Linked DNA regions of Homo sapiens. The protein of the gene in region 1 interacts with the protein of each later gene in a pairwise test. Each region holds a gene or a part of one and is shown in the gene's direction. Other genes may lie near its edges.

The links.
Region 2: the proteins of PRKCI (region 1) and PARD6B interact in binary tests that used the Homo sapiens proteins (3 or more experiments, as listed by UniProt).
Region 3: the proteins of PRKCI (region 1) and NACC1 interact in binary tests that used the Homo sapiens proteins (3 or more experiments, as listed by UniProt).
Region 4: the proteins of PRKCI (region 1) and PARD6G interact in binary tests that used the Homo sapiens proteins (3 or more experiments, as listed by UniProt).

What each region holds. Positions count from the first base shown.
Region 1 is NC_000003.12:170,302,393-170,306,483, forward strand, and holds the end of PRKCI (protein kinase C iota type), read left to right. Parts: intron 1-647; coding exon 648-735; 3' UTR 736-3,585; downstream 3,586-4,091.
Region 2 is NC_000020.11:50,748,574-50,754,272, forward strand, and holds the end of PARD6B (partitioning defective 6 homolog beta), read left to right. Parts: intron 1-1,085; coding exon 1,086-1,915; 3' UTR 1,916-5,168; downstream 5,169-5,699. UniProt on the Homo sapiens protein: Adapter protein involved in asymmetrical cell division and cell polarization processes. Probably involved in formation of epithelial tight junctions.
Region 3 is NC_000019.10:13,121,231-13,128,267, forward strand, and holds part of NACC1 (nucleus accumbens-associated protein 1), read left to right. Parts: intron 1-7,037. UniProt on the Homo sapiens protein: Functions as a transcriptional repressor. Seems to function as a transcriptional corepressor in neuronal cells through recruitment of HDAC3 and HDAC4. Contributes to tumor progression, and tumor cell proliferation and survival.
Region 4 is NC_000018.10:80,244,494-80,252,274, reverse strand, and holds the start of PARD6G (partitioning defective 6 homolog gamma), read left to right. Parts: upstream 1-4,760; 5' UTR 4,761-4,926; coding exon 4,927-4,998; intron 4,999-7,781. UniProt on the Homo sapiens protein: Adapter protein involved in asymmetrical cell division and cell polarization processes. May play a role in the formation of epithelial tight junctions. The PARD6-PARD3 complex links GTP-bound Rho small GTPases to atypical protein kinase C proteins.

The sequences.
Region 1 (4,091 bases):
CCAGTAGGAATTACCTCCCTTCCTTGAAGGAAGGGACTGTATCCTCTGTAACTTTGTGCTTCTTAGTATGGCATAATACATTTATGTATTAAATATTTGATAGCACTACTCACTGTATATTAAAGTAGAAGCCCAGTGTAACAAAATGCCAACCTCTCCCCTCTCTGTGACCCATGATCTCCCTGCGGTGTTCTCTCCTCATTCCAGGTCTCTCAGTGTACTTGTTCCTATTGCCTTTTCCTTTTGGCTAACTTCTTCTGGGCTACACTATCTAACATCTGGCTGTTGAGGTGACTACTAAATTGAATGCTAATTCAAACCTGGATGTTCACCTGTAACTAGGAATGTTGTTCTGGTCAAAAGTTAAGATTAACTGGAATGGTGACAACTGGTGTCTTTTTTATTCGCAGTCCTCAGTTTTGAACTCCTTTTTGGCTCTAAACTTGCTTGTGGGATTATCGGGGTTTTTTAAATTTTCAGTACTCCATTCTTGATTCGTCTAGAAAATCTGGGGGATTAATCTAAAAATTTATAGATTTCCTTTCAGTACAATTAGCCTAATTACTTGATTTTTAATCTTATTTTACCATTTAAAGGTTGAAGAAATCTTGATTATGATGAAAATAAATTTATTTTTCTTTCAACAGTGACATTGTGAGGAAGATTGATCAGTCTGAATTTGAAGGTTTTGAGTATATCAATCCTCTTTTGATGTCTGCAGAAGAATGTGTCTGATCCTCATTTTTCAACCATGTATTCTACTCATGTTGCCATTTAATGCATGGATAAACTTGCTGCAAGCCTGGATACAATTAACCATTTTATATTTGCCACCTACAAAAAAACACCCAATATCTTCTCTTGTAGACTATATGAATCAATTATTACATCTGTTTTACTATGAAAAAAAAATTAATACTACTAGCTTCCAGACAATCATGTCAAAATTTAGTTGAACTGGTTTTTCAGTTTTTAAAAGGCCTACAGATGAGTAATGAAGTTATCTTTTTTGTTTAAAAAAAAAAAAAACACTGCATTAAAAAAGTATCTGTTGCATTAAGGCACATAGTGGGATTACATCATAAACCTCCCATAATTTTTGTCATTCTGTGTTAAATCATTTCAGGGTTTAATTTTGAAATAAAAGATTAATATAAAATGCAACAACTTTTTATATTACCTATTAGTTTTGGAGTTCTTTATGTTTAAAAATTCAGGTGTAAATTTTATTGCCTTGGATAAATAAATTATTGATCTTTTTTAAGGCAGCAGTTATTAAATTGGTAATAGAAGATGCTGCTTGCTTAGAATTGGGAAATTCGGCTGGGTGCAGTGACTCAATGCCTGTGATCCCAGTACTTTGGGAGGTTGAGGCGGGCAGATCACTTGAGGTCAGGAGTTTGAGATTGGCCTGGTCAACATGGTGAAATCCTGTCTCTACTAAAAATACAAAAATTAGCTGGGCATGGTGGCACATACCTGTAATCCCAGCTACTCGGGAGGCTGAAACAGGAGAATCGCTTGAACCCAGGAGATGGAGTTGGCAGTGAGCCAAGATTAGCCTGGGCAACAGTGAGTGAGACTCGGTCTCAAACAAAAACCAAATTGGGAAATTCTTCTTGAGTTAAAAAAGACACTTTTTATTATGAATCAGATTCCAAATCATTAACTATTTTTGCAAAACTGGCACAAGTGGTTTTTCTTTTTAAGTATATTAACAGGGTAGCTCCTGAGCCTTTCCCTTTATTGGAAACTTTAACTGCAGTGTTAATATATACACTGCAAAAGACCAAGGATGCAGTTGAATGGAAAATTACTCAGTGTATAGAAAGGAAAAAAACCAGAAATTTAAAATAGATACAGAAAAGTACACTGGTAATATTTTTATTTCCTATTGGAGAGTGAATCCCCACAGTTGCTTTTTGTGACTTGATTCAAATGAGGCACTCATTATTGTTACCAAACTTGTAAAAGCATTCCATGTATTCAGTGGAGGCAGAATGTATAATATTTTTTCCTTATAATTTAGCATACAGGAAAAGTATTTATTTTTTAAGTAGGGTATCTTAATTATGCTCATTTCTTCCCCTAAACCACATTATCTATATGATTGGACCCTTTAGTGAAATCAGAAAAATAAAGTAGGCATGAATAAATGTTCAGGACACACACATACACTCACACACATCACAGTATCAGCTCTTTCAGTGAGTTTTTATTAACTAGATAACACATGTAATACATAGTAGAATACATTTCAGAGGCAGAGTTCCTCGGATTATTTTTTATGGATATTAGTGTTCAGCAGCTTATTATTTAAAGGGGTGCCAAATATAGCATCCTTCTGTTGTTTATTTTAAATATATTTTTAATGAAAAGGGACTTAAAAAGTAAACATGATTATCTAAATTACTTAAAATTTTTTAATCTTAGTAAAAATTTTAGGAAAGTTATCTAGTTTAAATTTCAAATGTTTTAAAATTTGTAGGCATTTAATAAATTATCTTTTTTTGGAGGGGTGGATGCTGCATTTCATTGGAAATGTCATTTTTCCAAAGTTTCTAGCTATATACTCTCTTTCCTTCAAATAACATAAGTCTGAAAGCAATGAAAACGTCAAAGGAAAATGTTTATATACATCCACATGTTTATTTAATATGTTTCTCTTAACACCTGAAACTTGTTTTAAAACAAAAAGCAGTATTCACTTCAAATCATAAACTTAGAATTCTGTATCTCATGTCAGAAATATGTTTATGGCCTTGCTTTTAAGTGGTGCTGTTTCCCATAGGGCATTAGTTCTCAGATTTTGGAATGTGAAATAATCACCTAGGAAGTTGGTTTAAAATGCACACTAGTGAGCCCACCTTAGACTTCTTTTGGGGCCTTCGACCTCACTTTGAGAAATACCTTCTTCAGGTTATTCTTTATGTTTGTCCTGTGGTTAAATATTAGAGTATTCATGATAAAACATTTTGAGAAGGGGTAAGCAGTGAGTTATTACCCACAATTTAAAGCAAATTTTGAATGAATCTTTAAGTTAGGTATCTACCTTCCCACCAGCCCCCCAAAAAACCTCTCAGTAGTTTCTTTCAGTGTACAAAATGATGAGCATTTTTCTATGATGAGGTTTTAACCATTATTCAGGGTGGTCTTTTGTTTTTAAATCTTTTTTTAACTAATAAGATTTACGGTGTGTATTTTATACAGAAATGCATTATAAATGTTTTTAATTGTGTTCTGTTTTTTGCAGTCTTTAAGTGCCATGCCAATTGTTCTTATATTCTATAGAAGTTCGCTCAAAATACTCAACAGGGGAATAGGCAGCGGACAGTCAGAATGGTTGGAATTTTGGCTTTCTAAGAAAAACTTTATTTTGCATAAGCATGTGGTCAGATCATTTTGTGCATATGCAGCCTGGATTGGATGTTAAGTAAATGCTTGTTCAGTGCCGGTACATTTACTTAAATCTGTTTTTATTTTTGTCATGTAGAATACTACTGTGGTCATCATAATGTAATCTATTTCTGTACCTTTTTTTTTTTTTTTTACTTTGAAGTCTTTAAATAAAATGTATAATACCCATTGAGAGTGGATCATTTTTCATATGTAGTATGTCAGAAATTTGTATAAGAACAAAGATGCATCAAAATTTGTTCAAGAAAAAGTGAAAATTTCAGAGTTTGGAATTTTGCTGTACTTAAAGCACCATTCTGGTAGAACTGATGCTGTCGTATTTACATTTAATAATGTTACATTTAGCTGGACATAGTGGCTCACACAGCACTTTGGGAGACTGAGGTGGGAGGATCACTTGACCCTAGGAGTTTGAGTTCAGCCTGGGCAATATAGTGAGACCCCATCTCTACATACAGAAAAATAAGAAATTAGCCAGGCATGCCGGCAAAGTGCCTATAGTCCCAGGAGGCTGAGGTGGGAAGACTGCTTGAGCCCAGGAGGTTGTGGCTGCAGTGAACTATGATCATGCCACTGCACTCCAGCTTGGGCAACAAAGTGAGACCCTGTCTCTCAAAAAATATTTAATGTTATATTTATTAATGTAGATATTATTAAAAATTAGGAATTAAAAT
Region 2 (5,699 bases), on another chromosome or scaffold:
CGAGGCTGGAGTGCAGTGATCATAGTGCGCTGCAGACCTGAATCCTGGAGTGAAGCCATCCTCCCATCTCAGCCTCCCAAGTAGCCGGGACTCCAGGCAGACGCTACCTACCACACCTGGCTAATTTTTTTTTACTTTTCATAAAGACAGGGTCTCACGCTGTTGCCCAGGCTGGGCTCAAGTGATCCACTCACCATGGCCTCCCAAAAAAGCACTGGGATTATAGACGTGAGGCACCACGCCCAACCACATTACAAGTTTTTTAAACAAGTGAAGGAAAAATGTATTTTAAGTAACTGGTTTAAAATGATGTTTTAAGGCCGGACACAGTAGCTCTCACCTGTACTCCTAGCACATTGAGAGGCTGAGGCGGGAGGATCTCCTGAGGCCAGGAGTTCAAAACCAGCCTGGGCAACATAGCAAGACCCTATTCAAAAAAAAGTAAAAATACATATATATTTAATGATGTTTAAGAATATGTAAGATCTGGCCAGGTGCGGTGGCTCACGCCTATAATTCCAGCACTTTGGGAGGCCGAGGTGGGTGGATCATGAGGTCAGGAAATCGAGACCATCCTGGCTAACACGGTGAAACCCCATCTGTACTAAAAATACAAAAAGTTAGCCAGGCCTGGTGGCACACACCTGTAGTCCCAGCTACTCGGGAGGGTGAGGCAGGAGAATTGCTTGAACCCGGGAGGCGGAGGTTGCAGTGAGCCGAGGTCACGCCACTGCACTCCAGCCTGGTCGACAGAGCGAGACTCCATCTCAAAAAAAAAAAAAATATGTAAGATCTATCATAGTTTCATTTGCCATATTTAATGTTTAAAAGTGAATGAGCTCTATCAAATTTAACTTCAACATTGGTTTATTTTGTGATGTGTATTTGAGATGGCCACCTAGTGGTTTTTTCTGGTATGGCATTTTACTACTGTACTAGATTATGATCTGATTAGAATAAGCTTATTAGCTAGTTTGTTTATATACCAAATATATTTTGAGTTATCCTTTCTGTACAGATTCAGCTGCAAGTGAATAGATATTTTTACAGCATTTCTATAATTATTTTGTTTTATTTTTAAACAGAAGAAGCAGACTACAGTGCCTTTGGTACAGACACGCTAATAAAGAAGAAGAATGTTTTAACCAACGTATTGCGTCCTGACAACCATAGAAAAAAGCCACATATAGTCATTAGTATGCCCCAAGACTTTAGACCTGTGTCTTCTATTATAGACGTGGATATTCTCCCAGAAACGCATCGTAGGGTACGTCTTTACAAATACGGCACGGAGAAACCCCTAGGATTCTACATCCGGGATGGCTCCAGTGTCAGGGTAACACCACATGGCTTAGAAAAGGTTCCAGGGATCTTTATATCCAGGCTTGTCCCAGGAGGTCTGGCTCAAAGTACAGGACTATTAGCTGTTAATGATGAAGTTTTAGAAGTTAATGGCATAGAAGTTTCAGGGAAGAGCCTTGATCAAGTAACAGACATGATGATTGCAAATAGCCGTAACCTCATCATAACAGTGAGACCGGCAAACCAGAGGAATAATGTTGTGAGGAACAGTCGGACTTCTGGCAGTTCCGGTCAGTCTACTGATAACAGCCTTCTTGGCTACCCACAGCAGATTGAACCAAGCTTTGAGCCAGAGGATGAAGACAGCGAAGAAGATGACATTATCATTGAAGACAATGGAGTGCCACAGCAGATTCCAAAAGCTGTTCCTAATACTGAGAGCCTGGAGTCATTAACACAGATAGAGCTAAGCTTTGAGTCTGGACAGAATGGCTTTATTCCCTCTAATGAAGTGAGCTTAGCAGCCATAGCAAGCAGCTCAAACACGGAATTTGAAACACATGCTCCAGATCAAAAACTCTTAGAAGAAGATGGAACAATCATAACATTATGAAACCGTGGTTTGAATGTTTTCAGAGTGAGGATGCCATGAGGACTTGTACATTTGGCTAGTTTAAAAGCATATATACCTCTGACCAGTGACGTGGAATAGGCATGAGACGAGTAACGTTGCAAGCTTACAATATTATTAAAGTAGTAGTTTGATAATTGTTAATATAAACTTTGGTGGATCAGAGGTGAATTTAAGTCCAAAACAAAGGGGCCTTTGCTGATGAAGTTACGTGCTTTTGCTGTTTTGTCTGTGGAGAATCAGATGTTAAAGCACATTCTTGGAACTATGTGAGAAGACTAGATCATTTCTGTTGGAAGTGGTTGCATATTTAACCTGCTGTGCAGAGCCCAGTTAATTTTTCCTTTAACTGTATTTTTAAAATTCTAATGTGAAGTCTGATTCTCTCTTGTGGTACATTGGGGACCTCAGCTCTTAAAGGTCTCATGTTCCCAATATTTTATTTTGATTTTTTTTTTTTTTTTTTTTTTTTTTTTTTTTAGTGACTGGGTCTCACTCTGTTGCCCACACTGGAATGCAGTGGCATGATCACAGCTCTCTGCAGCCTCAATCCCCTGGGCTCAAGCAGTCCTCCCACCTCAGCCTCCTGAGTAGCTGGGACCATAGGCACATACCACCACATCTGTCTACTTTTTGTATTTTTTGTAGAGACAGGGTTTCGCCATGTTGCCCAAGTTGGTCTTGAACTCCTGGGCTTAAGCAGTCCTGCCTCGGCTTCCCAAAATGCTAGGATTAGAGCCACCATGCCCAGCCTATTTTGATTTTTGTTTTTTTATGTTCCTTTCTAATAAATTGTAACAAATGATGTTCTCAAGTACATTTCCAGTTTCTTTTCTTTTCTTTCTTTTTTTTTTTTTTTTTTTTTTTGAGATGGAGTCTCGCTCTATCGCCCAGGCTGGAGTGCAGTGGCGCGATCTTGGCTCACTGCAAGCTCTACCTCCTGGGTTCACACCATTCTCCTGCCTCAGCCTCCCAAGTAGCTGGGACTACAGGCGCCTGCCACCATGCCTGGCTAATTTTTAGTAGAGACGGGGTTTCGCAGTGTTAGCCAGGAAGGTCTCAATCTCCTGACCTCCTGATCCGCCCGCCTCGGCCTCCCAAAGTGCTGGGATTACAGGCGTGAGCCACCGCGCCCAGTTGTGCATTTCTGGTTTCTAAGAATCAAACCACTTGGCTGTTTTTAGGAGTTACTTCCCATGTTATAAAGCTGAGGAAGCTTTTTTTTTTTTTTTTTGAGACAGAGTCTCTGTCACCCAGGCTGGAGTGCAGTGGTGCAATCTCAGCTCCCGGGTTCAAGCAATTCTCCTGCCTCAGCCTTCTGAGTAGCTAAGATTACAGGTGTGCGCCAACACGTCTGGCTTATTTTTTTGTATTTTTAGTAGAGATGGAGTTTCACCATGTTGGTCAGGTGGGTCTCAAACTCCTGACCTCAAGTGATCCGCCCATCTCCTCCCAAAGTGCTGGATTGCAGGCATGAGCGCCTAGCCAGGAAGCTATCTTTTCTTGAGTTATGAAACTTTGCAACAGTTGTTCAAATTGGTGTTTGTCCTTCCTATAGCTTTCATATTTTCAAATTAATTCTGTATGGCTATATAATTTATGTTTTAAAAGGCAATTCTCTTGACTTTGGAAATATGGAAGTCTCTCCTTTAACCTATTCTTGTTCCCATTCCCAGTCTCATTTGAAATCATTCCTTTTATTGTTAGTGTGTGTATTTTTGTTGGTGTGCTTTTAATGCATCCAAGTATGCATCATTTTGGATAAAAAATACATCCAAATTAAGATGTTTTAACACATAGGACAAACTTGTGCACTTTTTATGCCAAAAAAAAAAAAAATTGGGTTTTCCTTCATGGGATTTCTAGAAACACTGCCTACACTTTATGAAAACTACATAGTATTCACCTGTGACAGGTAGAGTTTATCACTATTAATTTTATGAGGCTATTTATTACTTTCCAATGCATCCACTTAGAACAAGCTAAGAGTAAGGCTGCTAACTTTAATTCCTTGCCTGATTTTATTGTACAGTGTGCACAAGCACAATGGTATGCTTGTATATAGAAACTAAAAATACTATGAAGTACATAAGTTCCCTATGGCTTATGGAGAGTTATTTATTAATTAACTTTATGGTAGGGCTAGTATGAATACCTTTTTAACAATTGTGTGCTATTACAACAATGAAGATTCAAATGACTCCGCTTTGAAGGATGTTTTCTCTATATGGTAAAATATATATGAAGAAGTCTTGATTACGTGAAGATCACTTGACTCAGAATACTTCAATGTATTTTGTTCACATTACCACTAAGCATATTATCAGTAAACTATTAACTGACTGCACATTATGTAATACGTTGTACTTTTTGTTGAATTCACCGAAGTTCTTCCATTTATATGCTATTTTTAATGGCATTCCGGCTTTAACATTCTGTGAGTCTTACAAATTTGACTCTTGAATGGCAAAATAATGTTAGTATGTAGAAGGTTAACTTTCATTTATAATATAAGTGGTGCAGGGGTTCAACATTTTAAGTAAAAATATTTTTACACACTACCTCTCTCTTTTTTTTTTTAAAGTTTTAACATCAGAACTTTTGGGGGAAAAACTACTTCAGGGCTTGACTTTTTGTACAAATTTTAACTGTAAAATACAGATTTATCTTGTACGCATTCATGGAAATGGAAATCAAAGCTGCTATTGCTTTTTATTTTAATTATCCTGTTAAGGGTATCTATCAATGGTATTTTCAAGTAGATCTCTGTTTCTTAAATTATTGGTGAAATAATTGATTACTAGATATATTGTAAAACCAATAGATCCTGGTTATACGATAAAATATCAGCTCATTGGTAGGCTGAATCAATTATTTCAAGTGCACCTTATTAACAAAAGTATCAGTGGATCCAACATAAAATTTTATAGTACTAAATGTCAAGCCTAACTGTGAATTTTGTTCTGTATCTTAAGTAAATTTATGATAATGTTCTCGAGCTATCAACAAAATATATGTACTTTTGTGAGCTATGAATTTTCTAATTAAATTTTACATGCTATAACATGATTTTTACATGAATGATACTTTGTTTATAACTATCAAATGTCAGTATTTTACTACAATTTTATTATAAAGTGTACATTATCACTAAATGAACTTCGATTTTAAAAATCAAATTAGCTTTAGTTGTATATTATTTTTTACAAATAAAGATAGACTTGTATAAAGGCTACTTTCTTGTTTGAAATTATATGAAAAGTTGCCCACAAATACCAGGTGCCCATTATATAAAATAGGTAGGGAGAAAACCCTTGAGTTTTAACAAGATCCTTGCTTCCTTAACTTTTAATTGTTAAAAGATGGACCCCAAATTGTATGTGCACTTTTTGCAACTGTGTATGACCATATGGCTATGGGCTGGATGGTAACTTTTAAAATGTGGTTAATTCTGATAGTGTGAAAGGTTATGCAAGCTATTCACCCAAAGTTATCTTTAAGATTATTTGAAACTAGTTTGTAATGTGACAGCTTATCTTCTGAAATTCAAATTCACTTAGTTATACTTAATTAATATTACCATCTATCTAGTATGGCCTATGTTGATTGAATTCAATTTATACTGAAAAACTTAAAATGTCTGAGAAAAAGGCCAGGCATGGTGGCTCATGCCTGTAATCCCAGCACTTTGGGAGTCTGAGGCAGGCGGATCATGAGGTCAGGAGTTGGAGACCAGCCTGGCCAACATAGTGAAACCCTGTCTCTA
Region 3 (7,037 bases), on another chromosome or scaffold:
AGGCTCAGGGGACAGCACATTCACAGCTTTTCTTGAGTATGTACCAGTCTTCTTCTGAGTGCTCTAAACATTTTGTCTTCATGAGGGAAGGAGTGGGGGGATGACCCTACTGTGGAGACAGAGACTCTAGTACCATTCACAAGAGAGTGAAGCCCTGTCTCTGGGTCTCCTGGATCTGCCCATCACCCCCAGATGGAAGTTCAGAACCCCTTGGCCTGCATCTAGGGTATTTAAAAAATCTGGCCTCCTGGCCGGGCAGCAGGGAGCCCCAGCAGGTTCTTGAGCTGGGCTTTGAGGAGATGTGAGTTTTGGTCAGCCTTACAGGGTCTATTGAAGGAGTCTGCCTGGAGGCCCGGGGGTTTGGAGAGAGTTTGGGGTTGGCCCAACATTGTCTGACCCTAGATTTCATCAGTGTCATTGCCAGAGCCTGTGTGGAGAGAGGGATCCCATCAGGCTTGGTGGGGCATATTGCTTTTGGGATGGTGGTGAGCCACCGGGGCTGGAAAACATGAGTCAGTGTTCATGCCACTCTGCGTCCTCAGATCCTCCGTGCCCCTCGTTTCTCCTCCTAGGTTGCTCTCAGCACTTGTACACACTCGAACTCATTTAAGCCCGTGGCTAGCAGGTCCTGCCTGTTATCATCATTTGACACACAAGGCAACTGAGGCACCCTAGTCCTTCCTTCACACAAGCTGCAAAGTGGTCTGGCTACCACCCCTGTGCCGCCTTCCAGCCACTTTCATGTTCCTCGTGTCTGCATTTGCTCCTCAGTCCTCTCAGCCGCTACTGCCTTCCCCTAGAGAACCCTCTGGGCCGCATGAGGTGGGGCCGGGAGGTGGGACTGGGCCTGCTTGCACATTAGGTGGGGTGAGGACCAGCCGAGCCGGCAGAGGTGACGTGTCTTAGGTTGTGATCTGTGTGTGGTTGTGGTCATGTCCCTCCAGCCTTCTCATGTGCTGCCTCCTTGGCGAAGGTCTCAGTTCTTAGAGACCTGTGCGTCTTCTCTGAGGGCTTTGACTGTGTCCAGTTCGTGGTTTCTAAATCGAGCAAAGGGAGAGGGTAGGTAAGGGTGAGCAGACACGGTCTAGTAGAGAGTGAAATTTCACACTTAGCACCACCCCTGTCTCAGCCATGAGACTCTGGGCAAAGGTCTTTACCTCTGAGCCTCAGTGTCCTCCTCTGATAAGGAGTGACAAGTGGGCACAACTATACTGCTGTGATTCGCAACTGGGTACAGTCCTACCTCCGGGGACACTTGGGGAATGTCTGGGGACATTTTTGGTTGCCCCTGCCGGGGGGGGGGGGGTGTGCTGCTGGCATCTAGTGGGTTTATAGGCCAGGGATGCGGTTCAACATCAGACAGTGTGTAGGGCAGCCCCCACCACAAAGAATGATTGACGCAAATGCAGTGGCTGGGTGGGGAATCTCCACTGTCTGGTTATCATGAGGTTTGCGGGAGAGGTTGGCGTCTGGGGTGTGAGTGGACAGTGCTGTGAAGGCTCTGGGGAAAACCCCAGCGATCACTGCCTGTTAATCCCATGAAATGTGCGAGGTCTGGGAGATGGTGAGAGGCATAAGATGTCTTCTACTCCCAGGGAGTTTGCGGCCCAGCACGGGGCCAGGGGATACGACTAACAGCAGCTGGCATTCATGAGCACCGACTACGGGGCGAGCGCCGATCGGCCTGTGTTCTTTGGTTGTTTAATCCTTGAAATAGCCTTGTGAGGTGGCTGCTGCTGTCAGCCCATTTTCTAGATGGGAGACTGATATGGGGGGTGAGCAGTATTGAGGGTAATTCTGAGTGACAAGCTCTATAAGGGATTTGAGCCTAGTACAATAGTAGGATTCAAAATCTTAGGTCCTGCGTGGTTCCCTAGCACAGCCCAGCAGGCCCCTCTCCCAGGATGATCCCCATCCCTCCACCCTCCTTTGTGTTAGCGGCACCAGGGTCACCTCAGGGCCTTTGCACTTACTGTTGTTCCCTCCACCCTTGGTTGCCGCCACTGCTGCCCTGTCTTTTGGGTATGATCTGATTACACGCAGGGAGTGGGATGTAACTCCGAAGGGTGGGCTTATGGTTGGAGTTGGTGGGGAGGGAGCGGGCAGGCTGCGAGCTCCATGAGGACGGAGGCAGAGCTTCTGCCAGGCTCTCCAAGGAGCTGGAGCTGCTGCCTGCAAAGGGAGGCCAGATTGCCGAGGGCTGCGAGGAGGAGCGAGTGGGAGGAGGGAGAGGCAGCACGCGGAGACTGCTCATTCCCGGAGATGGTGGTTGCAGGGAGAAGGGGCTAGAGAATAGCTGCAGTTGGGAGGATTGGGAAAGGAAGAATGAAAAGAATGAAGAAGGCCTTCCTTGGGGATTAGAGAGAGGGCACCCCAGACCCTGAGGTGGAGGTCCTCAGACAGGCAGAAGACCCTGTTTCTGGAGAGGACACATCCAGTAGCTCAGGTAAAGAGCCCCAGCTCTGGGCTCGGCCGGTCCGGGGTTCCCGTCTGGTCTCTGCCTTGCTTCTCTGAACACCAGTTTTCCCACCTGTGAAATGGGTCTAGTCACAGCTGCCTCACATTTTTGCCTGATTCGGGAGCCAGACGGCCTGGGTATAAACCTGTGCCTGCCATTCACCAGCTACATGTTCCCCACCTCTGGCTTCACCTCTCTGGGCCTCATTCCCATCCATGAAATGGCAGGCAGGCTCATTTCTTCCTCAGAAACTGTAAAGAAGAGTAAGTTAAATGAGCCTGTCTGAGCCCTGGCCAGGTATGGGCCCAGTCAGTGAGGCTTGAGTAGGGGACACTGTTACTAATCCTATTCCACCATGGATTTAACAATAGTCATTCAGGGAAAGAGATAACGAATTAAATCTGTGGGTGTATAAGAAAAAAAATACAGGCCAGGTGCAGTGGCTCACGCCTGTAATCCCAGCTCTTTGGGAGGCTGAGGTGGGCGGATCACTTGAGGCCAGGAGTTTTGAGACCAGCCTGGCCAACATGGAGAAACCCAGTCTCTACTAAAAATACAAAAATTAGCCAGGCATGGTGGTGTGTGCCTGTAATCCTAGCTACTCAGGAGGCGGAGGCACGAGAATTGCTTGAACCCAGGAGGCGGAGGTTGCAGTTAGCCGAAATCACGCCACTGTACTCCAGCCTGGGCGACAGAGGAAGACTGTCTCAACAAAAAAGAAAAAAAAATACTGATGCAAGATGAGGTCTTGCTGTATTGCCCAGGCTGGTCTCAAACTCCTGGCTTCAAGCGTCTTCCTGCCTCAGCCTCCCGAAGTTCTGGGATTACAGGTAGGAGTCACCGCCCCCCACTGAACAGTTTGTTCTTCACTAACTGTTTTCCTGGACTGCCTTCACATTCAGCCCCTACAGAGGGGTCTTTCTGGTTCTGGGTCAGGCAGGCAACCTGAGTAGCTGCCAGGATCCAGCCACATCCTGCTGAGCTGCATGAAGGACTGTGGGGCTCTCTGGGGCCTTTGTTCCTTGTTACACTTGGAGTTGCTGGTCTCCCTTAACTGGCTTGTAGGTCTTAGCCCATCTGGGCTGCTGTAATAAAATACCTTAGACTGGAAGCCAGGCACATTGCTCATGCCTCTAACCTCAGCATTTAGGAGGCTGAGATGGGAGGATTGCTTGAGCCCAGGAGTTCGAGACCAGCCTGGGCAACATAGTGAGACCTCATCTTTACAAAAAAATTTAATTTTAATTTGTTTTTCACCCGTGACACAGCCCTCAGGAGGTCCTGAGAACATATGTCTCTCGTCTTTGCAAAAAATTGTTTTAATTAGCCGGGCGTGGTGGCACACATCCCTAGTCCCAGCTACTCAGGAGGCTGAGGTGAGAGGATAACTTGAGCCCAGGAGTTTGACGCTATAGTGATCCAAGATTGCACCACTACGCTTCAGCCTGGGTGACAGAGCAAGACCCTGTCTCAAAAAAACAAAACAGACTGGGCCATTGATAAACAACAGAGATGAGCTGCTCATAGTTGTAGAGGGTGGGAAGTCCCATATCACGGTGCTAGCAGATTCCGTGTCTAGTGAGGGCCCATCTCTCATAGATAGCACCTTTTAGGTATCTGCACAGGGTGGCAAGGACAAACAAGCTCCCCCTCTTTTATACGGGCACAGTTCGTATTCATGAGGACAGAGCCCTCCTGACTGAATCAACTCCCGAAGGCCCCACTTTTTTTTTTTTTTTTTTTTTTGGTGAGACGGAGATTTACTCTTGTTGCCCAGGCTGGAGTGCAGTGGTGCGATCTTGACTCACCGCATCCTCCGCCTCCCAGGTTCAAGCGATTCTCCTGCCTCAGCCTCCCAAGTAGCTGGGATTACAGGCATGTGTCAGCATGCCAGGCTAATTTTGTATTTTTAGTAGAGACGGGGTTTCACTGTGTTGCCCAGGCTGATCTCGAACTCCTGATCTCAGGTAATCCGCCTGTCTCTGCCTCCCAAAGTGCTGGGATTACAGGCGTGAGCCACTGCACCCAGCCCTTTTTAAATTTTTGATCAACAACTTCTTTTTTATTTTGAGATGGAGTCTTGCTCTGTTGCCCAGCCTAGAGTGCAGTGGCGTGATCTTGGCTCGCTGCAACTTCCACCTCCTAGGTTCAAGCAATTCTGCCTCAGCCTACCTAATAGCTGGGATTACAGGCGTGCACCACTGCGCCCAGCTAATTTTTGTATTTTTAGTAGAGATGGGGTTTCACCATATTGGCCAGGCTAGTCTCCAACTCCTGACCTCAGGTGATCCGCCCACCTCGGCCTCCCAAAGTGCTGAGATTACAGGCGTGAACCACCATACCTGGCTGAAAGGCCTAACTTTTTTTTTTTTTTTAGACGGAGTCTTGCTCTGTCACCAGGCTGGAGTGCATTGGCCCGATCTCGGCTCACCGCAACCTTCGCCTCCTGAGTTCAAGCGATTCTCCTGCCTCAGCCTCCCGAGTAGCTGGGATTACAGGCACGTACCACTGTGCCTGGCTAATTTTTTGTATTTTTAGTAGAGATGGGGTTTCACCATGTTAGCCAGGATGGTCTCTATCTCCTGACCTCGTGACCTCGTGATCCGCCCTCCTCAGCCTCCCAAAGTGCTGGGGTTACAGGCGTGAGTCACCGTGCCCAGCCAGCCCCACTTCTTAATACCACTACATTGGAGATAGGCTTTAGCATGTGAATTTTGGGAAGAGGCAAACATTCAGACCATAGCATCTGTCGACGGCCATGTCACAGCTTCCCTGGAAAGACATCAGGAAAGGACTGTGCCTTTGACAGTCTCTCACAGGCCCATGCTGGCTGGGGAATTCCTCAGCTCTCTTCCCTAAGAGCTGACAGTTACTACTCCCAGGAATCATCCTGCCAGCCCCCTTCCTGCAGATGGCAGGATCCACCGGCAGTGTGAGCAATTCGTCAGGTAACACTGCGGTCTCAATAGGCCCCTGACTGCTGGCTACCCACCTTGGCAGCTGTCAAAGGAGGTCGTCTGTCTGCCCAGCCACAGATAATGCTTCTGAGCCCTATTCCTGTTTGAGCCACGTTAATGTGGAACAAAACAGGGAGTTAGGTTAGGAGGAATGGAAGTAATTCTTTGTTCATTTTTTCCACGAAGGACTGTGAGCACCCACTGTGTACCTGGCCAGGTCCTAGGGGTAGAGGACACAACAGGGATCTACACAGGCAAACTCCCTGCCCCAGGGAAACTGACATGAAGCCCCAAAAAATGCCCAGTTTGGCAGGGGTGGTGGCTCGCACCTGTAGTCCGAGCACTTTGGGAGGCCAAGGCAGGAGGACCACTTGAGCCCAGGAGTTTGAGACCAGCCTGGGCAACATTAGGGAGACCTCGTCTCTATTACTAAAAAATGCACAAATAAATAATTTTTTTTTAGAAAAAGAAAAATGGCCAGCTTGCTAAATAAATCATAGGAACTCCCAAGAAGGATAAGTCAAGCAGGGAGAATCAAGCCAGGGAGTTAGTGTCGGGAAGGGCTTTGTTGGTCAGACGCAGTGGCTCATGCCTATAATCGCAGGGTTTTGTGAGGCTGTGGCAGGAGGAACACTCAGCTGGGAGTTGGAGACCAGCCCAGGCAATATAGTGAGATCACGTCTCTACCAAAAAAAAAAAAAAAAAAAAGCATACATATACATATACTTTTTTTTTTTTTTTTTTTTTTTTTTTTTCGGTTAACTGGATGGGCCGGGTGCCGTGGCTCACGCCTGTAATCCCAGCACTTTGGGAGGTGGGCGGATCACTTGAGGTCAGGAGTTCAAGACCAGCCTGGCCAACATGGTGAAACCCCATCTCTACTAAAAATAGAAAAATTAGCCAGGCATGGTGGTGGTTACCTTTAATCCCAGCTACTCAGGAGGCTGAGACAGGAGAATCGCTTGAACGATTCTTGCAGTGAGCCGAGATCCCACCACTGCACTCCAGCCTGGGCGACAGAGCGAGACTCTGCCTCAAAAAAAAAAAGAAAAAAAAAAATTAGCTGGATGTAGCTCCTGTGGTCCCAGCTATTTGGGAAGCTGAGGTGGGAGGATTGCTTGAGCCCAGGAGTTTGAGGCTGAAGTGAGCTATGATGGTGCCACTGTACTCCAGCCTGGGTGACAGAGCAAGGCCCTGTCTCCAAAAGCAAAAGAGTAGAGAAAGGGCTTTATGTGACCAGGGAGAGTATGAAGAGCTATGGCTGTCCCATTCCCATTCTAGTAGGTCCGAGAGCAAGCAGGGCCAGACTGCCAGGGGCCCCAATAAAGCATTGTAGGGGCCCAGGCAGTGTCACTTGGGGCCAAGGTAGTACAAAGTGGTTTTGAAGGAGTTGAAGATGAATCCAAGGATCTGAATGAGGAGGGCCAGAGCTGGTGAAGCTACGGCATTCACAGGTTTTGGGAAGGACTGGAGCCAGGTCCTGAAATTGTTGAGTGGAGGTGTCTGGGGTGTGTGCGAGTCTGGCATTCACAGGGAAGTCCGGGCCAAAGACTCCAGTGGGGGAGGCATCAGTGAATAGATGGTGCTTCAGGCCTGTCTTAGTCAGCTCAAGCTGCCACACA
Region 4 (7,781 bases), on another chromosome or scaffold:
TGAATGGATGCTGTGTGGCTGAAAACTGACCACGCTTTTCTGCCATAAAATCACATTCTGATACATTCACCAAGTCAGTGAAAAGCTTTACGGACTGACTCTTTTTAAAACAGATCCTGAGACTCTAATCCATGCTTAGTGTAATACTTGGAACAAAGACTGTGCTTCATGTTCTAGGTGCTTTTATTTGTATTTTGTAAAAGTGTCCCAGAGTTTTAATGCAAAGTCAGAGACAGCTGCGTAAGGTTTACCACCTGCCTTTTGTCTTCCACCTGGGGGTGGACATGCAGGTCACACCGCAAGCTGGTTGAGGAGAGAGCCCTTTGCACCAATCTAGGGGATGCAACCAGGGCCACTTTGTAGGATGTGGGCAGATGGCTCTGGAATGCAGGGAATTCATTCTATTCTGGCCAACGGTGCCATCTGCTGAAAGAGCTACTGGTAAGTCAATTTAGGCATGAAGCTTCCATTGAGAGTCAAGATATTACTGCATCAAAAAGGCAGAAGAGGCTAGACACAGTGGCTCACACCTATAATCCCAGCACTTTGGGAGGCCGAGGCGAGTGGATCACCTGAGGTCAGGAATTCGAGATCAGCATGGACAACATGGTGAAACCCTGTCTCTACTAAAAATGCAAAATTAGCCGGGCGTCGTGGCACATGACTATAGTCCTAGCTATTTGGGAGGCTGAGGCAGGAGAATCGCTTGAACTCGGAAGGCGGAGGTTTCAGTGGGCCAAGATCGCGCCATTGCACCCCAGCCTGGGCAACAAGAATGAAACTCCATCTCAAAAATGAAAATTTTTAAAAAAGGCAGAAGAGGCCTCTTTGAGCAGGGGAAGAGTAAAGGGTAAAAAGAAGGGATGCCTTTATATGAGAATCAGGTGATAATGAGGCATAACTACTCTGCCATTTCCTTATTTCAATCGAATATCAGTTCTTTGCCTGCCTCATCCGAAAATATATTAGAATGCATTGCAAATGCAACAGCCTGCTGGTTCAAATATTACAGCGATGCTTTCCTATTACCCAACGAAATTATCTTAGAGAATGTTTTCTTAGAACATATACATCAGCAACAAATGTTCAATCATAAAAGAGCCTGCTCTCATCATAAAAGAGCCTGCTCTCATCATAAAAGAACCTGCTCTCATCTTTTTTTCAACAGGGTCTCACTCTGCTATGCCCTGGAGTGCAGTGGCATGATCACAGCTCACCACACACTCGACCTTCCAGTCTCAAGAAATCCTCCCACCTCAGCCTCCCCAGTCTCAAACAATCTGCCCCTCTTGGCCTTCCAAAGTGCTAGGATTACAGGCATGAGCCACTGCAGAGGGGCCTTCCAAAGTGCTAGGATTACAGGCATGAGCCACTGCAGAGGGGCCTTCCAAAGTGCTAGGATTACAGGCTTGAGCTACTGCACCCAGTCAAGGAATACATTTTACTGGGTCCACAACATACTTCCTTTTTGCTCCTGATGGTTCAGTTATTAGATGGGTTCTTAGAAGCCGTGATTTGAGGAAGATTTAACCCCTACCCATTCCTATTTTCTCTCTCATTTTCTGTCTGAAACAAGTCAGCCTCTCAGAGGCTCCCATGACCCCCAGTTGTGTGAAAAGGCAGGCTATCAGGCCAGGATCTGAGGAGTCTTTTCTCTCTCTCCTTTCTTTTCTCTTTCTTTCTTCTTTTCCTTTTCCTCCCCCACTCCCTTCTTTTTGCTTAGATGAGGTCTCTCTCTGTCACCCAGGCTGGAGTGCAGTGGCACAATCATAGCCCACTGCAGCCTCGACCTCCTGGGCTCAAGCAATTCTCCCACCTTGGCCGCCTGAGTAGCTGGGACTATAGGTGTGTCCCACCATGCCCAGCTAATTTTTTTTTTTTTTTGGAGAGACAGGGTTTCACCATGTTGCCTAGGCTAGTCTCAAACTCCTGGCCTCAAGCAATCCTCCAGCCTCAGCCTCCCAGTGTGTTGGGATTACAGGTGTGAGCCACTGTGTCTGGTAGGAGAGGGCTTTTGTTTTTTCCAATCTGGCTGCTGTACTGTGTAAAAGCCTTTCCAGCTGAAGGCTCAGTTAATTTTTTTTTGGTCTATACCCGCCTGAACCTAGAGCTCAAAGCCCTAGCAAATCCAGTTCAAGTCTCAGCTGGAAACTCAAGCTCCACACGCAACAGCAAGCTTTCCCAGCCTTTCCTCCTGCTTTTGCCTGCAGATCATGCCAATCAAGAACTGTGGAGCAACAGATGATTAAGATAAAGGAGCAGCACCTCTCAAACTTCAGTGTGGACATGAATCACCTGGGGATCTTGTTCAAGTGCGGATTCTGATTCAGTGGGTCTGGGTGGGGTATTGCTAACAAGTGCCAGGTGGAGCAGATTTTGGGCCTTACACCACACTCTGAGCCACAGGCATTGACAAAGTGATCTCACTCTCATCAACCTGGTCCAGAGCCAAGTCTAGGGCTACTTGAAATTCCGTAGCCTTCCAGCCTTTCCTTTAAAAGGCGTCTTCCCACTCCAAAGCCCCGAGCTTACTGGGTGGACCCCACTCCCACCTTCATTGCCTACAGTGCTGTTCATTCCTCCACATACTCCTTTGTCCCTGCATTTCTTAAAATGTGACAGTTGGAGCTCCTCCCTCAGGATATTACTGAGCCTCTTCTAACCACAAAACAATGTTGCCCACTGTAATGGGCAACTTGCAGTCAGCATTGAGCCTGTGACTTTTCTCAAATCCAAAGATTTGCATTCAGTTTAGGAAATTTCCCTTGAAAGAATGGCAGCACCTCTGTCCACAGTCTGCTTGCCAAGTGTGTGTCTCTTGGCATTTTTTGTTTGCTTGCTTACTTACTGCGCACGTGCCTTGTTTTGGAACTCTGTTTACATATCCGGTCCTCTGGCCAGCCTAGCATTTCTCTAAAGGGCAGTGATTATAACTCAGTGGCTTTGTAATGGTACTCCCTGGCACTAAGTCCCAGCATATAACAGGGTAAATACTTAGCAAAAATAAAGGAAAATCAGATTTCTATGAAAGTAATTTGTGTTAAAGGCTTTAGAGGTGTGTAGTTTGTGGCCTAGTAGTTCTAATTTTAGAAGTCCATTTAAAACATTGAATATAAGCAAATTTTTAAAACAGTGTGATATAAAAGCTTAACAGTGGAAACATCTTAAATATCCAACAATAATGAAATGATTATAAATTATGCCTATATTCATATAAGCACCTTTTAGAAAACATCTTCTCTAAGAACATTTAATAAAACCGTTCTGGCCGAGTATAGTGGCTCACATCTGGGAGGCAGAGGTGGAAGCATTGCTTGAGGCCAGGAGTTTGAGACAAGCCTGGACAACATAAAGAGACCCCCATCTTTACAAAAAACAAAAATAAAAATAAAATTAGTCTGTGTGGTGGCACAAATCTGTGGTCCTCAAGAGGCTGAGGTGGAAGGATTGCTTGAGCCAAGGAGTTTGAGGCTGCAGTGAGCTGTGATTATGGCATTGCACTACAACATGGGCGACATAGCAAGATCCTGTTTTTAGAAGAAGAAAAAGTTCATTATATAGCACAAGGTGAAAAGTGCAAGTTGTAAAACGAGATAAACAGCATGGTCACAACTTTGTAAAATATACAAATATATATGCAGAAAAATAAGTGAAAATAAAATACACCAAAGGTTAATACAGTTGATTGCTGAGTAGCATGACTACAGGTAATTTTTACAGGTTTTTTCACTTCTTTATATTCTGCAGGTTTCTTTTGCAATGAATGTATGGTGAGATTTATAATTATATGGCTTGTAGATTACAATTCATAGTATACTTCAAAATGATTTTTTAAAAACTGTCTTGTCTTCTGAACTTCATCACAAATTCCTCAAGGGCAAGGATTGTATCTTTGGTTTCAGCAAGCCCGTTTCAGAGGCCTCTTGATTGGTAAATATTCATTGATGCTGCTAGTAATTGATTCTTTGTCTTAACAGGTTCTCTTTTTCTAGCTGCCTTAGAAAAAGTCTCCTTTCGCATCAGGCAGGTGCTTCTGATCCTCTCCCTAGAGATAGGCTATCTAATAAAGCCCTCTAAGCCTTTATTTTTATTTTTTATTTTTTGAGACGGAGTCTCGCTCTGCCTCCCGGGCTGGAGTACAGTGATGCGATCTCGGCTCACTGCAGCCTCCGCCTCCCGGGTTCAAGCGATTCTCCTGTCTCAGCCTCCCCATTAGCTGGGATTACAGGCACCCCCCCCACCACACCCGGCTAATTTTGTATTTTTAGTAGAGATAGTGTTTCACCGTATTGGCCAGGCTGCTCTAAGCCTATTTGATAAAACCCTTCTCCCAGGCCATCAGCAACTTGACAATTAGTACTGACAGGTGATGCCTTTTGGGATCAGGTCTCCAGTGGTTCTCGTTAGCATTCTTCACTTGAATATTACCCAAAACAATGGCAAAAATCAACCCCTATCCTAGGTTGCTCGGTGGAGGCAATCAAAACGAGACGCCTTGGGCTGGCCGCGATGCTCCTTTCCCCAGGCTCTGGGATTGTGGACAGGAGGGCGCGCACCCACTGGCGATCCGACGCGGAGCTGCAGCGTGGGGGCGTGGTGTGGCGGGTCCTCCGGAGCGCGGGGCGGGGCTGTGGGCGGGGATATGGGCGGGTCCTCCGGGGCTCGGGGGCGGGGCGGGGCGCGGGCGCGGGCGCCGGGAGGTGGGGCGGCGCGCGCCGGCGTCCCCCGCGCTCCTCCCGCGCGCGGCCCCTGGAGTCCCTGAGGCGCGCGGCCAGCCCAGCTCGGGCCCGCAGCACCGGGAGCAGCCCGCCGGCCAAGCGAGCGCGGGCCGGGGCCGGGGCCGGGGCCTGGGGGCGCCGCCCCCGGGAGTCTTTCTGCGGCCCCTGAGGAGCGAGGGCGACGGCGAGGCTGACCGGGGCCGAAACCATGAACCGAAGTTTTCACAAGTCTCAGACCTTGCGATTCTACGATTGCAGCGCAGTGGAAGTCAAGAGCAAGGTAAGCCCCCCGCCCGCCCCGGCGGCCCTGCGCCCAGTCTCCTGGCTAATGAATGGGGCGCCCCGCGGAGGGGGACTGGGGCGGCGTGGAGGCGACAGGCGCCGGCGACAACTTTCCAGTTCGGGCGCCGCGCGCCGCTCCGCGGGACGCGCACTGGGGACCCCGGCCGTCCTTCCCGCCCCCCGCGCGGACACAAAGCCCGGCAGCCGCGGCGCTCAGAGGGCCGAGGGCCATCGGACAGTCCGGGCAGACTCTGGACCCGCTCCGCGGGAGCTGCTCTTTTGTTCCACGAGTGAGAGGCGATCGGGGCGCGCCACACATTGGAGGGGAGGGCGGCCTTTCCGGGGCGAGTTGAGGGCCAGGGGCTGCTCGGATTCGGGGCCGTGGGGGGGCTCTGGGGGCCCGGGCCGTGGGATGGCCCTGGCCAAGGCGCCTTCAAGGCTGCAAAGGAGGCTTGTTACCTGCCAGGAGGAGACTTGCCGCCGGCTCCGAGCCCGGCGTCCCCCACCCGCTCGGTACCAAACATCTAGGCACCAGGCGCGCTCCCCCGCGCAGACCCAGAGCACGCACCCGGCTCTCCCCCGGCCCAGACCCAGACCACGCCTCCCCGGGCGCGTCCCCGGGCCAGACACCCCACCCCACCCCCACGGGCGCGCCCCCACCCCAGACTCCCCCACCTCCGGACGCGCCCCCGCCCCAGACCCAGCCCACTCCCCCGGGCGCGCCCCCGGCTCAGACCCAGACCCCTCCCGAGCGCGCCCCCGGATCAGACCCGTACCCAGACCACCCCCACGGGCGTGCCCGGCCCCTCCCGCTGCCTGCGCCCGGGCGGAGCGTGCCCGAACTTGCGGGTCGCGATGCGCGTCTGGGTAATTGGCTGGTAGGATCTGGCGCTTCTGCCCTTTGCGGGGGTGGTTCCTTCGCCGCAGATGCTATTGTTTGTGAGGGTCTCCTTGGTGGACCCCGCGGGCTGAGGAGGTGCTGCAGTTGTTCGGGGTCCTGCGGGAGGGGGCCCCTCGAGTCTTTCGCTGGCTACTCTCTGGGAGTTGAGCGGCCCTTTCGCCCTTTCTTTCTTCGCACCCCGGTTCTCAGAGTTGTGGGAAAGGCTCCTAACGGCGGAGTGGGAGCCCGCACCCCTAACTGTGTGCCTATCTTGGGCGCAGGGCGGGTGTTCCCTCCCCTGTCTCTGGGGAGGCAAGTCCAACAGCCCCCTCTCGCTGTGCTGCTCTGACCTTTGGAGTAGGATTTCCAGGGTGTCTGCAGAGGATTGAGGCGGGGAGGTGTCCCAGCAACAGCATGGCCGCCTCTCCAGCCTGCTACAGTGAGTTGCAGGATCCTTCTCTGCTTAGGGGTACACGGTCTTTTAATGAATCCCTCATTTATCATAAGATCCTGTCCTTACCCTTGCCCCATGACCTCGGCCCCACACCCATCTTCTCTGGAGCACAGAAGTGCCCCCAGCTCCCCCAAATCAAGTGTGCCAGCTGTGGGTTAGGTGAGGGGAAGAGCCCACAAGCATGGGCGGGAGGTTTCTTTAGCTCAGTGGGAACACAGCTCTCTGGAGCTGCACTATCTAGTACAGTAGACAATAAGCACGTGTGGTATGTAATCTTATTTAACTTTTTATTTTGAGATTATTGTACATTCACAAGTAGCTGTGAGAGAATATAGAGGTCTGTGTTCTCAGCCTCTGAGCCTTTGCTCAGCCTCCCTGATGGTGGCATCTCGTGTGACTAGCACACTGTCGTATCCTGGACACAGACCTTAGCGGGTCTCAGCAGCGTGACACACTCATTCGTGTACGCCTAGGTCTGTGCGGTGGTGTGACCACCAACACAATCAAGGTGCAGAGCAGTTTTCCCCTTTCATCCTAGGATCCTTCCTGCTGCCCTTCACAGCAGCTGTTTAACCAGGGAGGACTGGTTGGTTAACATGAGCGTTAAAGACTCACTTCTGTGCTCATTTGCCCTCTGCAGAGGGTGGCTGCCTCCTCACACACATAGCTCCAGAGAATCAGAGGCCTCAACCAGGCACAGGGTAGGTCTGGAGGACATGCCCTCACCAGGCCTCATCCTGCAGTCCTGGGCTGCTGGCACTACAGAGGCTGCCTCTGCCTTCCCTGGGGTGTCAGCCTGCCTGCTTCTGCCAGCTCCACTTGGCAAAGAAGGGGTGCTGCCTTACACCCCAAGCATGGATTCAAGTTCAGATGCAGCAGATGCTTGTCTGGAGGTGAGTGGCAGCGCCAGAGTTTTGGTTGAACTGGGGTGTCCTTGGAAGGGCCACACTGACCTGGGCCTTACTGGACTTGCTGTTGTGCCCTCCCCACCGTGATGGGGCTGAACTTGCTGCTTGTCCAGAGGGTCCGTGTGGCTCTTCCTTCTGTGCACAGCTTCCCACTTACCCACTTTATGGTTAATATTTGTTACTGTAGCATCTATCTCCATAGGGAGCCGCTGTTGTCAAAATAACAGCAAAGCCTTATGACAACCTCAATGTAGCACCATAACACCATGGTTTGGTTTGTGGGGAAAATGGCGTCTGGGGAGCTGAGTCCAGCCTGGGTTCTGCCACCTACTGCATTTGTGAGCTTTTGGGCAAGTCATTTAACTTTTCCAAGCATCGGTTATTTCATCTGTAAAATGGGCATGATACCTTTTCTGCTTACCTATCAAGATGAAATGCATTGAATACAAGAGCGCTTTGAGTTAAATACTGCAGGTCAGAATTCTTTGGCATTTTAAGATATTGGGTTGGAAAACTGCCTTAGGTTCTCTCAGAATTTT